Linked DNA regions of Homo sapiens: region 2 is linked to region 1. The links come from fine-mapping of genetic effects on gene expression. Tissue or cell type: cerebellar hemisphere. Region 1 holds a variant in brackets; the other region holds the start of a gene. All regions are shown on one strand. Distances are from middle to middle.

Region 1 (8,055 bases):
TCATAATCTAGCAACCTGCTAGATTCAAGTCAGAAATTTCATTTCTGGAGTTTTTCAAAGGTCCATAGTCTACCTTAGGGTTCATTGAACTAGGGTTATTTTATTGGCACAGATTTTTAAAGATTGTTAAAGTTAATGTGTTTTGACTTCTGCTCCTAGCATCTTCTTGGTGGTCCCATAAAAAGAAAACTGTCCTAAGTGACTCAACCACAGCTCAGAAACATCACATCTGCATCATTACATAAGAATACTTTCTGATGTATTTTTAAGCACTATATTCATAATGTCGGTCTTTAATTCAACTTGCATGCTGTGAAATTGGTCTGTTTTATATTTGTTGAACACTTCTTTTCATTTTATTTTTGCTTGAGTCCAGCAGTTAAATCATTTTTCCCATTTTTTATGGATTGACGTGTCAGGAAATTGAGTAATTCAGCTAATTAAAAGGTCTAAACCTCATCCCAGGTAATTGATTCACTAGAGAAAATGGAAGAAAGATGTGATATAGATAGCAATGCATTCTTGATACTCTTTTGGTCTCTTTTTATTGATTCAGCACATAGTTGTGAAATTCTAATCTGTCTGAGTCACCTGGCTCAGTGGGTTCTTCCTGAGTGCATGCACATATGTGTAGATTACATACATACAACTGTCACATCAGATTCCAACTATGAGAGTAGTACGAGGTTAATCAACTTGTATTCTTTCCTCTATTTTTATAAAAAGCCAGAGAAAACACTGGGAAAATGGCTAGGCAGGCCTGAGGTACAATGGGTTTATGACTCGTTCTTATATGTGTGTAACAGGGTCTCACTGTCACCCAGGCTGGTGTGGTCATAGGTCACTGCAGCTTCGACCTGCTGCGCTGAAGCCTCCTGAGTAGCTGGAACTATAGGTGTGCACCTCCACACCTGGCTTTTTTTTTTTTTAATTTTTTTTTTACAGAGATTGGGGTCTCACTTTGTTGCCCAGGCTGGTGTCAAACTCCTGGGCTCAAGTGATCCTCCAACTTCAGCCTCTCAAAGTGCTAGGATTACACATGTAAGCCACTGCACCTGGCCCCATTTTTTATATATACTGAGCAACTGGCTTCATAAGAAGAAAATCCAGGACCTTGTGTCCTGACCAAAATAAATTAATAACAAATTTTAAACCAGCAACACATTTTTTCTTTTTCAATGAATTACATGGACATTGATATATTCATTATTTCATTTTTATCCTTGTTTTTAACCTTTACTTATTTCTTTTTTTAAGCTTTATTGGGGGTATAACTAATATATAAAATTGTACATATCTAATGTATACAATTTGATGAGTTTGGATATATGCTGTCTGTGATCTCATCACCACAATCAAGATATTAAATATATCCATCACCTCCCAAAGTTTCCTTGTGTTCGTGTGTATATGTGTGTGTGCATGTGTGCATGTATGTATATATGTGTGTATGTGTGAGCGTGTGTGTATATGTGTATGTGCGTGTGTGTATATATGTGTGTATGTGTGTTGACGTATGTATATATGTGTGTATGTTTGTAGTAAGAACACTTAGCATAAGATCTATCCTCTGAACATATTTTCAAGTGTTAACTATCTGCACTATGCTGTACAGTAGTTCTCTAGGACTTACACATCTTGCATGACTGAAACTTTATATCCATTTTCTTTTTCTTTTTTAGGAATTTCAAAATGCTGTATTTGTATTCATTTCTAAGTACCTGGATGATGCCATACTCCAACTTTATGCGGTAATAAAAAAGAACCCATCCAGATATCTGTTCCATCAGTGAAGGCCATTTGATAAAAAAAAGTTCATATCAGTCATACCGGTAAGAGAAATACTGGTATATAAGGAGATAAGTGAAAGAAAGTATTTATAAAACAAGAAAATCTGTCATGAACTTGAGCAGACTTCAGCACACACTGTGTCATGCTAATTTGTGATGAAATATAATAGAAATTTTAAGGCAAAGGACAAAGTAATTTGATCCAGGTCTTGTGTTCGAATGTTCCCTGATCGATGCAACAGAAAAAAAATATTAAACACTAATCAAGGAAATTTGTTTAGGTGTGTGATAATGATATTGTAATTATGTTTTGATTTACTTTTATTTTTATTGAAGTATATTTGACAACTGTATATATTTAAGGTATACAATTTGATCATTTGATGTACAGATACATTGTGAAATAATCACCACAAACATGTTAATTAACATATCCATCATCTCACATAGTTACCTTTTTTCTTTTTGGGTGAGAAGCTTAAGATCTGTCCTCTTAGCAAATTTGAAGTATACAGTAAGGTATCATTAACCATAGTCACTTTGCTGTGCATTAGGCTTCCAGGTTGTATTCATCTTGCTAACTGAAATTTGTGCCCCTTGACCAACATTTTCCCATTTCCCCCAATAACAAATATTTCATTTTTTAATCAACAAATTTGAACATGTTTTATGTTGCAATTAGAAACAATTGAAACAAAAGCCCTCCTCTCTGGGGCTCTGGTCTGAGAGACAGAATATAAAAGTTACAATGTCACATAAGGAGAACAGCATGAAATCTGTAGTGCAGCCTGGATTTCGGACATCTTGGTATTCAATTTCTCATGCCAGGCATTTGGCACTGCTGGGTGTTTGCTACACCTGAACTCAATTCTTGTCACCATCTTCCTGGACTCTGAAACTTGTTCCTCCTTGGTGAGTTCAAAGACAACCCTTTCTTTGAGGCCTTCCCTCATCCTTCTTCCTTTATCAACTCCATGTTACCCTCAACTTTTCTCAAGACAAAATCAGTCATTCCCTTCCCTGAGCTCCCCAAATACTTAGAACGCACCTCTGAATAGCGGCGCCCCATTTTAAGACAGGTGTGGCTTATGTTTGTTCCTCTGATTTGACTACGACCTCTGGGAAGGCAGGGTCCAGCCACTCCATGCGCTTGCAGATCCTCTGGTCCTCCATGGGTACTCAAATACATGTCCTGGGTTGTGCTGACTCAAACAGGAGGAGAGACATCGCCCCCAGGCTGCTGCGCACCCTGTGTCTGCCCCAGCTCGCCTGCTCCCTGTCTCTCTCAGGCACCACTGGGTGGTTTTGTAGCAAGGAATAATAACAGGCAGCCCTCTTGTGGATGAGCCTGAGATTAACCAGTTCTTTTTTTGTGAAAGTTAGGTAAGGTGTGATCATACAATGCCTTGACCTGCTCCACTTCCCCAGGACTGTCCCACCTTTGTGTTTCAGGTATTTCAGCACTGACGCCTCACAAGAACATGGGATGTCACCCTCAAAGCCTGTATCTGTGAGCTTGGCAGGTTTCTGAGCTTTAAGACAAATAAAATGTTTTGGCCACAAGCACATATTTATGTGGTCTGGCCCAGCTGTGATATTGGGTAAACAGCAACTTTGGTGATGAGTCAGTCCATGGACCTGTCCCATGCATGATGCGAACCTGTGCCATGCATGCAGTGAACCTGCACAATGCACTACATGAATCTGTGTGATGCATGAAGTGAAACTGTGCAGTGCTGATGTGAATCTGTGCAATGCATGGAGTGAACCCGTGCAACGCATTATGTGAATCTGTGTAATGCATGCATGGAGTGGACCTGTGCCATGCATGGTGTGGACCTGTGCCATGCACGAAGTTCCATGTGTTTTTAAACCCAGCTCCAGCCAAAGTTATGTGTTATAAATTATTCCAGATTAAATTGAAATAAATATCAAATGTCAACAGAGAACCCCATCCACTGGACCAAACCTTCCCTAAAACACAACATAGATGAGTTCCAATGTGTTCTGTCAGCCTCATAACTACCCCTGTCAGGTAATTTATAATGCAATTCAAGAAGCTGTGTGCCGTTTCCTTACCTTTTAGGCCTCTTTTTCCCCTTTGGAATATCTCACCTTTTTAAACCACAGGAATAAAACTATGGTTAGAAATGATTAAATTTTAACTTACACATTCTGAGCATGGCTCAGTGTGTAAAGGAAAATCGCTTCACATTTTGGGCAGTAAAGCGAATCTGAAGTATGTCACACGAGTAATTGTCTCCTAGGAGACCCAAGCGCACATCATTGCCATGGAGACCACCTCGGTAGGCCCTCTCTGCTTGAAATGATTAGCATGGATCATCAGCTGGGGTTTGTTTTCGGGGAGGAAAGGCTATAAATACATGGCCAAGCCTTACAAACTATGACAAGTCGTGTGCTCGAGCATGGGCTTGGGATGCAGAGATTTCCAAGTCCAGCTCTGGCATCGCAGGGGAGGACCTCATGGACTGTATCCCTAACACACC[G/A]CTTGCACGTGAGAACAGACAGGAGCAGTCAGCACCAGGGGAGAGGGCAGGCAGCCAGCGATCCAGGAGGGGGGCTCCTCCGAAAGCCAGGCTGGGGAAGACTCTCCCCAGAAGCAGCCAGCAGCCGTTCCCTCGTTTGCCTTGCCTGACCTATGCCTCTCCCTGAGTGTTTCCAAAGGGCGGCAGCCGCAGGAGAGGGCCAGTGTTCCCGAGTTGGCTAGAGGAAGAAAAAAGCGTGCCATGGGAAAAATCTATTCTGTTAGCAATTTTGAAATATACGATACATTACTATTAACTGTGGTCACCATGCAAAGCAATAGATTACTAATGCTTACTCGTCCAGTCTAACTGGAGCTTTGTACACTCGGGTCAGCATCTCTTCTCATCCCCCTCCGTCCCCCCAGCCTATGGTAATCACCTTTCTACTCTCCGCTTCCATGAGTTGAGTCTTTTCAGATTGCGTATTTAAGTGAGATTATATAGTATTTGTTTTTCTTTGCCTGGCTCTTTTCACTTAAAATAATGCCTCCAGTTCTATCCCTGTTGCCACGAATGACAGAATTTCCTTCCCTTTTAACGCTGTACGTAATCCATTGTAAGGTGGTGAGGTGATATCTTAATTAGTTTGACTGAATATTTTTAAAATGTATACATAGATCAAAATAGATACAATTAGTATTTGTCAATTAAATTAATTTTAAAAGGAAGACAAAAATGCACAGTGTTCTGTTTTTCACCTAGATTCCCTGAAACTCATTTTTGACATAATAGCAGCAAAATTGCCATGAGAACAGCTTTAGCCATCATGTTCATTGCTGTACCCAGCTACTGAACCCCTCCTGTTTCAGAAACAGGTGCAGCGCTAGGTGCTGGCGCTGTGAGCTCAGGAGCCGGGGGAGGCTCCACCTCTACCCTCAGCCAGTGGCTTTTGTTTCAGGGATTGCCAGTGCATGTGGCACACCCAGCTGCATAGAGAGAATGGGAGAGGTCAAGGAAATATTTTGAAGACGTGGTTCACTAACAGCCAGAGGATGAAAAGGAAAAGGAAAAAAATGGCTGAAAAGATAAGTGTCAGAGTGTTGCTCACTCTGTGGCAGGTGGGCCTATGAAATCCTCTTGACTGGGACTTAAGTTTTATACACAACACTGGGAAACGTGTTTTCTGAGAACGCTGTTTTAACTGATGGGAGTCTGGAGGTGATGATATCTGAACATCATGCTTTTTAACCCTCTTATATTTTATTTATTAAGTGAAGTCTTAATATTTCTTCCACTTTTCTTGGGCTCCTAAGAGCACTTTTCCAAGCGTGCAGGGCTCTGCTCTTTGAGAGCTCTGATGTTGGCCACTCCCCCGTGGCACTCTGCAGGCTGTTACAGCCACGCTGATTCCACGGCATTTAGTGAGTGCTGGTTTCCATTAGTGGGCCTGACTTCTCGGGGGTCAGTGGTGCAGACAACTGCTTCGCAGCTGGCTTGGAGGCTCCTGGTGGGAAAGGCCTGGGTGTGACTTAACTTCGTGCACTTCTTTGATTCATTCATCCATGCAAAAAACAGTCCACCAAGCACTGAAGTGTCAAGCATTGGATGAGACTGGCAGCTCCCTGGGAGAGAGGCAGCAAAGTCAAGGAGCAAATGATCTGAGGCACAGGGCAGATAGCCGGCTGCACTCTGGCCATGACGCTGAGAGAGACACTGCTAGAGCAGGGGGCCTGTCACAGCTGGACATTCAGGGAGAGCTGCACTGAAGGACAGCAGGCATTTAGCCCTGCAAAGAGACGAGGGAAAACCCCAAAGCATCCAGTCTAGGGGAAGAGACAGTGGAAAGCCCAGGGGCGACATGGGTGGGGACTGTCCTAGAACTCCAGGCAGGCCAGCATGGCAGAGGTTAGTAAGGGAAAGTGTGGGCGGGTCCCACGTCATAAGACCTGCTTGCGGGCTTTGATGGCAATCTGTGTGGAACGCAGAGCCCCTGAAGGGCCTTCAGCACGGGATCATGGTGGCACTGGAGTTTCCAAAAAGGCACTTTTTTGAAGAGGTTGGAGGGAGGTGGGAATCGAACCCGTTCAGAAGAGATGGCTGTGGCTTGACTGCGGTTGCGCTAGGCTATGGGATATCCTTCCTTGGTGCAGCTGTAATCAGGCCCCAGAAATCGGGAGAAGATGGTTAGAACGCAGGCAAAAGTGGCATCATCATCACACCAACCACTTTGGGTTACTGGCTTTGAGGAAGCCAGGATCTCTGAAACTGGGAAAGAGTATTACCGAGGAGCACTCCTATGCCCCTATAAACTCATGTGCTGCAAATTGGTCACCAGTGTGCCCTAAGCATGTATCCCCTCATCGTTCAGGAAGATGCGGGTGAGGGGTGTCTGCGGCTGCTTCAGCCCCCTCCTCTACCATTAGACACAAGCAGCCTCGTCCATCCAGCCCAGCGTGCTGCACAAATGCATCTCCTGCTGTAAGTGCATGATGGGAGAAAAGCCAGGAACACAGAAGAATCTGCCCAAAATGGTTTTTGAAGTCTGTCCTCAGGAGATAATCTCAGGGACGTAAGAGGGTTCCATGTGCAAATAAGTTACGGAACCTTTGGCAGAATGCTGCACGCTACATCTTCTGTTCACCTTTGGGGATTTATAATGCAGCAGCTTACCAGTGACTCAGAAGAGGCCCTCAGTGAGAAGCCCATTTCCAATGTCCTTTAACTTAAGATTTCTCAGACATATTTGACCATGGGGCAAGGTTCTTTTTAAACATAATACCTATTAATATTTCATAGTGGAAACATTAAGAAATGCCATCATAAACTGGGCGCAGTGGCACACACCTGTAATTCCAGCTACTCTCAAGGCTGAGGTAGGAGGATTGCTTGAGGCTCGGAGTTCAAGGCTAGCCTCAGCAACATAGCAAGACTCTGTCTCTAAAAATAAAAAATAATTTAGAAAAAGAAATGTCATTATGGGTTTTCCTAGATTAAGATGGGTGGAGGGCTTTTGAAGGAGTAGAACAGAGAAAACTGGAATCACTGAAAAAAAATGAAGCAGCCAGGATGAATGCTTATACAAAATCTGCATGTATAAACAGATTCATTCCTTTAAATATATGCATTTTCAAAGCACGTTCACTCCTGATGCCTTTTATTCTCACAAGTGTGAGGCAGGTGGTGTTGGGGCTCAGAAACTAGTAACCCTAGTAACCCAAAATACATGCTGATATGCTGAACTGAGGAAGCCTCAAGGACTCTCACCTTAACCCCCTCCGCAACGGTCTCCACCAAGGAAGCTGAATTCCTTTATCTGCGTAAGATCCAGACCCACCAAGGAGAACAAGTATCTTTCCTTCCCCTCCCTGTTATCTCATTTTCTGTTGCAGAAAAGAGGACCAAGATGTGACCACACCTGAACGCACCCTTTTAGGAATATAATGACTATCTCCAAGGGTCATTTAAATACCAGACAGAACTATTTACAAGTTAATCTTCTTTCCTGGATTCAGTCAGTCTCCCTAGCAATTATTTATTACAGCCCAATAGAATTCCTCCTCTCTCCACTGCCATAAGCTGTTTTATCAGGATCCAAGCCCCCTTTTTGGAACTATCCCCACAGGGTTGACAATAATTGCATTACAAGTTCTAGGCCGGGCAAGGTGGCTCACACCTGTAATCCCAGCACTTTGGGAGGCCGAGGCAGGCAGATGATGAGGTCAGGAGATCCAGACCATCCTGGCTAACACGGTGAAACCTTATCTCTACTAAAAATACAA
Region 2 (6,267 bases), 690 kb before region 1:
ATGAAAAAAAAGGTTAGAGTTGGTATGCGGATACTAAAGGCTAAAATGAAAGAGGGGTTACTGGAAATGATAGTGCCAGAACCTCAGGGGTGTCTTTCAGATCTTCAGGCACCTGTGGTTTATGGTGTCTGCACCTGCATTCAGATGGTCACAGTTCTAGGGCCTTGGCTCAGGCCAGGACCATTGTGAGTCCTTTTCAATGCCAAGTAGCATAGGCCTGGCTTTCAAGGCAACTTTGATTGCATAATGGAACCGTGGAGGGCAACTGAAATGTTGGCACTGCCTTGTCTAACAAGCAGTGACTGTCCTTCATGCATGTGAACTCCTGAATCTTGTTTTAACCTGAGTAGGAAGAATCACAGCTGACTCGGATATCATCTTCAGCTTCCATTTCTGAAAACATAATCTGCCTTTTTTTCTCTGACTCACTTCAGAGACCCCACGTGAGGAGCAGCCTTGCTCAGGAAGAAAGCGTGGGTCAGGGCAATGACTTCATTTATTTACAACAAGTGAAGGGCTTGGGACTGCAATGGTGGCAGGCGAGGACTTGCTCAATGGATGTGCTGCTCCCGTAACATGTCTGAAAGGCACCAGTGTCCCTAACATCATAAAATAAAAGCACAGATGGTAACTTACCCAAAGTGACTGGATAAGTTCATGGAAATACAAAAGAGAAGGAGGTTTTTGATCATGATAAAACCAGAGAACATTCCATTGTCCATTCCCAATAAGAATAGTAGTTGAAGCAGGTGAATATGGAGGAATAACTCTTCCCTTCTCCAGCTTGTTCTTGAAGCTGAAAAGCACACAAAGCGGGGAAGCACGTGAACATCAATGCTGTTGTGTCACAGTTCCTGGAATCAAATCACACTGCTATCACAACAATTTGCAAAGAAAGGAGCCCGCTGTCCTTCCCCAGGACAGCTGCACACCAGGTATTTTCCATCACCCTCACTGGGCAGTAAGTTGGAGCATAAAAATAAGTAACAAGAGGCTTATTTTTACTTCTACTCAGGGTGCAGAATCACCCTAATTCGTTGTTTTCCACTCAAATACTCTGTTTTGTTTTTTAGCATGTTATCAAATAAACCATTAGTCCAATTATTAAAATAAACGCTGTAGTTATCTGAGCGACTGTATTTTGTATCCGTCAAATCCACAAGTGTAGTAATTTTACCTTTCTGAAATATCTGCCACGCCACGCGTTCAAAGCCAGCAAGCTACTCCTCTCTCTGCAAGGCACTGAGAAAGTACGTGGAAAGAAGTGGGGAAAAGCACATTTAAGAAACAGGTTTTCTGCAGGATCACAATACTGTGACAACTGCCTATAAAAGAGTGTGGCTACTTTCCCGGCATTCGGTCCCCGTGACTACATAACTTAAGCACTGCATCTGTGGAAGTCTCTCCACTCAATGCTGGACCCTAATTAATGTATTTGAGATCCAGGCAGACATTGTCCCTGGGCTCAACGACTAACCTTCCTGAAAACACGCATTTCTCAGTATGCGCATAACGCAAATAGGTGCTCACAGGCATCCGAACAGTATGCTTCGAAAAGAAGCATTTTCCCAAGAAGCCCCCCCAACCCCCATCCCCCGCAAACTCCGGAATTGGGAGACACAACAGGTACTTCCACCTCGGAAGCGAAGGCCTTCTGCGACTCCTGCCAAGAAGGGCAGGGTGCCATGCGGTGGTCGCCTGGGCGCGTCCGGGGGGCTCGTCGCGGGGCCCGGGCCAGAGCCAGGCGGCGAGCACGCGGCGCTGCATGCGGGAAACCCGGGCGGCGCCTCCCGCCGCCCCTCAGCCCCGAGCCAGGGACCCCCAGGAGAGGCTGCGCTCCCACGACCCTCCGGACCCCCACAGAGGCTCACCAGGGCCGGCGCGCCAGGGCAGGTGGGCGCGGGGGCTGCACTGCGGAGCCGCAGCCTGGGTCGCCCTGGCACCCGCGGTCGCCACCCGCGCGGTCCGCAGCGGCACGCCGAGGGTCTCCAGCTCCCCGGCCCTCCCCGGCTCGCTCCCGGCTTTCGCAGACTTCCCCTGCTCCTGCCCCGGGTACGAGCCAAGCGCTCCGCCAGGCAGCGCCTTCCTCCTGGGCTGGGAGCGCGCGGTGCAGCAGCGACTCCAAGTCCCCTGGCCTCGAGCAGCCCGCGCGACACGCGCGCGACACCCCCGCGGGGTCCGAGTCCACCCCGCGAGCAGCGCCGGGACGCCGCGCGCCTCAGAGCCCCGGGGCTGACGCTGGCTTTCCAGGTGGGCGATCTCACCCCTCCGGCTCCCGTGATGGTGGCAACGGGTGTCCCCCACCCCCAACCGGTCACCGCGCCCTGGTGCCCCGTCCGGCAGGGATGAGCCGCCCGGACCCCGCTCTCTCCCGCGCCCGGCTTCAGCCCCGCAGTCGCCAGGGTAAAGTTTGCGCTCTGGCCTGGCTGCGCGCCCCGCCTGCTCTGCACCTCTCCTCCCCGGCCACGCAGCCTGCCGCTCAGGCGCCCCGAGGAGAAGGGTGCGGACCGAGCCGGGGCGGCCGGTCCTCTTCCCCGCTCGCGTCCTCTTACCCCACTGCCCCGGCCCAGCGCGCCCAGGGCTCACCCTGCGCGCCGGCCCCGGGAGGCGAGCCGTCGGTGAGGATGCATCCTCCTTCTCCTCCGCCTGCTCTCGCCCGGCTGGCAGGCGCGGAAGGCCGGTGCGGCGTCACCGCCCCATGCTGCCAGCGCGAACTTCCCCGGCACTCCCGGCGGAGCGGCTCTTGCGCCCCGCGCTCCCGCCGCCGCCCTGCAGCTCCGCTCCGCGCCGCGCCCCGGGCCGCGCGCCGCCCGCCGCAGAGCCCCCCAGCGCCCCCGGCGCACTCGCGCCCGCTCTCACCTCGCCCGAGCGCCACATGTCGTCTCTGGGCTGGAGGATCGGCCCTCTGCAGAGGTGCTCCGGTAGAGGCCGCCAGACGCTCAGCAAATGCGCCCTTGGCCGAGCTGGGCGGAGGGGGAGGGCGCAGGGCCCCCGGCTCGGCCTGCAAGGGGAGAGGCCCTGTTCTGCTGAAGTTTCTCCAGGGCCCTCAACAGCATCTTCGGCGCCTCGTGTAGTCACCACCGCCCGCTTGTAGAGCAGGGATGGGAGGGCAGTGTCAGCAGTCGGGTGATAGAGGCCTGGACTCCGACAGCTTTGCTCCCTAGAGCCGGCCCCAACGCCTCCCTGCCCAGGCCTGGGTCCTTCCCGGGTGCTCCATGGCACCCCTTACATGCGCATCTCTTAGGCGCTTCTGAAAGAAGCTGGCCTGTGGACATTCTTTTCATCTCACTCATAGACAGGAATGCATAACTACGGGAGGGAAAGCCAGGGTCACATTGGACTCGATTAGAATGAAATCCTTACCTAACGCAGTGTATATCTGGGGGTTTTCTGAAGTTCCATTTCTTGACAACAAGCCGCAGTGGCAAACGGGAAAGGGCCAGGAGCCCTGGGGGCTGCAGGTCGGAGAGCGCCTCTGGGGTGACGGGGCGGGATCTCCCCAGCAGGGCTTCCGAGCCACGTCGGGTCACTGCCTCATTAGCCACGTACATGGGGTCTTACTATGGTCATTACGTCGGTGTGTCGTCCGTCCTAGTGGTGCAGTTCCTGGGAGGTGAGGGTGGCATTAATGACAACTGCGCGGCAGCAGGGCCCCTTCAAACAACACAAGTAAGAGCGCATCGTCTTGGGTTTGCCAGGTCTTGCTTCCTCAGGAGGTGGGGGACTCTCGACTATAACACCCAGTGGAAAACGTTCAAGACTCAAAGGAAAGCCACTGAAAACGTGATGGGGAGGTTTACTTACACCATTGTCCCATTCCTTTTGTGAAACTGCATTATTCATAATCTCTTTTAACAGAATAATGGTAAGTAAAGGCAAATTCCTAACTCCCCTCCAGGAAAGATCTTTGACCTTCCAGTGTAGGAAGCCTCTCATTTTTCCAGTTATCTCTAATACAGTGTATTCCAAATCTAAGTTACCTGTTAATACTTCTGCACATTCCAGAAATTCTGAAATTTTCTGAAAAACAAAACTTGTAAATCTATTCCAGGAATAGGACATAAATATACATAAATGTGCAAATATACAGGAAGTGTTTCTCTGAATATACATTTAGCCACACTATTAAATAACTGTTTCCAGTGGTTCTTCAGGAAATATGAATGAAATAAGATGCTAATTTGAATTTTCTAATTCTAAAATGGATCACTGAACGTATGCATTTCTTCATTTTCTAATTTCCCAAAAGATGTACCACTAGGGTGAAATTCCTTGGGAGACATTAAATTTTAAAAAGTTAACAACATGGTTTTATGATCAGCCTAATATAATTTTCACCTATTAGGTGTTGGAATTCTAACACCTAATACCAGCGACAGCTGCTCTTCTCTCAGGATTAAACAGCATAATGCAAATCAAAGAGTTGGAAGAATTGGTAAATTTTAAACTTCACAGCTTGTCACACAAAGTCATTCGGTGTGAGTTTGCAAAAATAAATGTATATAAACAAGGGATGATTTTTGTATTAGCGAGGGTTATAGACATTAATTCTTAATAATAAAAGAAATGTCAGCTGTAAGGAAATATGTTCTTTTGATGGATTATGTTTAAAACTTCCACTTTTTTTGGTACACTTTCTATCAGCTTTATGTCCACACAACACATATTATTGAATATATAAAAATCATTTTAAGTTAGAGTCATTCTTTAACATTGTATTTCAGCATGTTGCTTAAATTCTTTTCTCTTCCCTGTAATGAAACGGTATGCCACTCTCTCTCCTCCTAGTGTTTATGTAACATAACATAGCCTCACTTTAGATGGACTGCCCTGAGGGGACAGTGAAATCGTAAGGCCCATCAGAACCTTACAGAAACTCACATTGCTAGAAGAGTGCTTACTACCATTTCAATGATTTTTGTTTTACTATAGAATTCTGTATTTGTGCTGAGAAATAATAGGCTATCCGTTGAATTCCCATTTGTTTCATTAGCATTTTCTCTTCATTGAATGAAATTAAGCAATGTCGTGATCGTTGTGGAAGACAGTAGAGGGCACCCTAGTTCCACACAACCTCAGCCTTGGCCCGGGCTTCATAAGAATTTCATTTCCAGTGTCAGAGCCTAAAATAGCTGAAGGTGGGGAAGCTGGGCCATGAGTAGAACACGTGTTCACAGAGCACCCACCCTGTACCCCGGTCAGGGGCAGGAACTGAGACAGTGGCTGTGTTTGCGTGGTTGGGTGTGGTAAATGTGGCTGAGACATGAACACAGTGCCATGGTATAAGTGAGATCATGTGCTATTTGTCTTTCTGTGCTTGGCTTATTTCACCAAGCATGTTCTCCAGGTTCATCCATGTGGTCAAAAATGGCAGGATTTCCTTCTTTGTTAGGGCTAAATAATATACTGTCGTATATGTATGTTATACATATACGTGTGTGTGTGTGTGTGTGTGCGTGTGTGTGTGTACGTATCTCACAGTTTCTTTATTCATTTATCCATTGGCAGATGCTTAGGTTGTTCCATTATTTGGCTATTGTAAAAAATGCCAAAATGAACATGACAGTTCAGATCTCTCTTTCAGATACTGATTTTATTTCCTTTGACTATATCCCCAGAAAGGGGGTTACTGGGTATATAGTGGTTGCCACGGGCTGGGAGAAGGAGAGACGGGGAGATGTGGGTCAAAGGGTACAAAATTTCAGTTATGCAAGATGAATAAGTTCTGGGGATCTACTATACAACATTGTGACTACAGCTAACAACACTGCGATATATACTTCACACTTGCTAAGAGGGTAGATCTTATGGGTTCTCATCACACACACAAAAGAGGGCAGCTCTGCGAGGTGATGGAAATGTGAGTGCATGTGATTGTGGTGGTGAAGTATACATGTATCAGTCATCAAGCTGAACACCTCAGAAACCAGATTTTACATCAATGAATGGATGAATGAACAGATCTACATTTCTGGATTTAAAAAAATAAAAAGAGAAGACACCCCACAGCTTTAAAAACATGGGGCATCCGTTCCCACCCTCCTGCATCACCTCCATTCTACTGACACCTGACATGGGTCCTTAGAAGAACATGGTCTATTCTTTTTCACACTTTGCCTCCTTTATGTAACTAGGAAAATAGAGGCATATGGGGCTTTTAAAATGATACTAAATTTTTTTCTAATTTCATTGTATCTATTTTATCTTCTTTAGTGTTTTATTTATCATATCTCTATTTTGCCATATTTCATTTTATTTTGTGATGGC

Which allele goes with the higher level. Alleles are on the strand shown, and positions count from the first base shown. SD is a standard deviation of normalised expression in the study named.
In carriers of allele A in region 1, the expression in cerebellar hemisphere of the gene that starts at base 2,909 in region 2 tends to be higher than with G alone (large effect, 0.78 SD a copy in GTEx).

The links. PIP is the estimated chance that this variant, and not a neighbour inherited with it, causes the effect.
Region 2: GABRA5 starts here. The variant in region 1 is fine-mapped to the expression of GABRA5 in cerebellar hemisphere (GTEx, PIP above 0.99).

What each region holds. Positions count from the first base shown.
Region 1 is chr15:26,175,143-26,183,197 of GRCh38, reverse strand. No RefSeq gene overlaps it. Among named protein-coding and RNA genes, the nearest start is that of LINC00929, 63 kb to the right of the region's middle. RefSeq lists enhancers at 5,455-5,954, 5,955-6,456. The variant G/A (reference allele first, on the strand shown) is at 4,298.
Region 2 is chr15:26,863,704-26,869,970 of GRCh38, reverse strand. GABRA5 (gamma-aminobutyric acid type A receptor subunit alpha5) reads right to left here and starts at 2,909. Exons shown (of 11, transcript NM_000810.4): 1 at 2,860-2,909; 2 at 1,178-1,242; 3 at 637-796. The coding sequence starts at 722.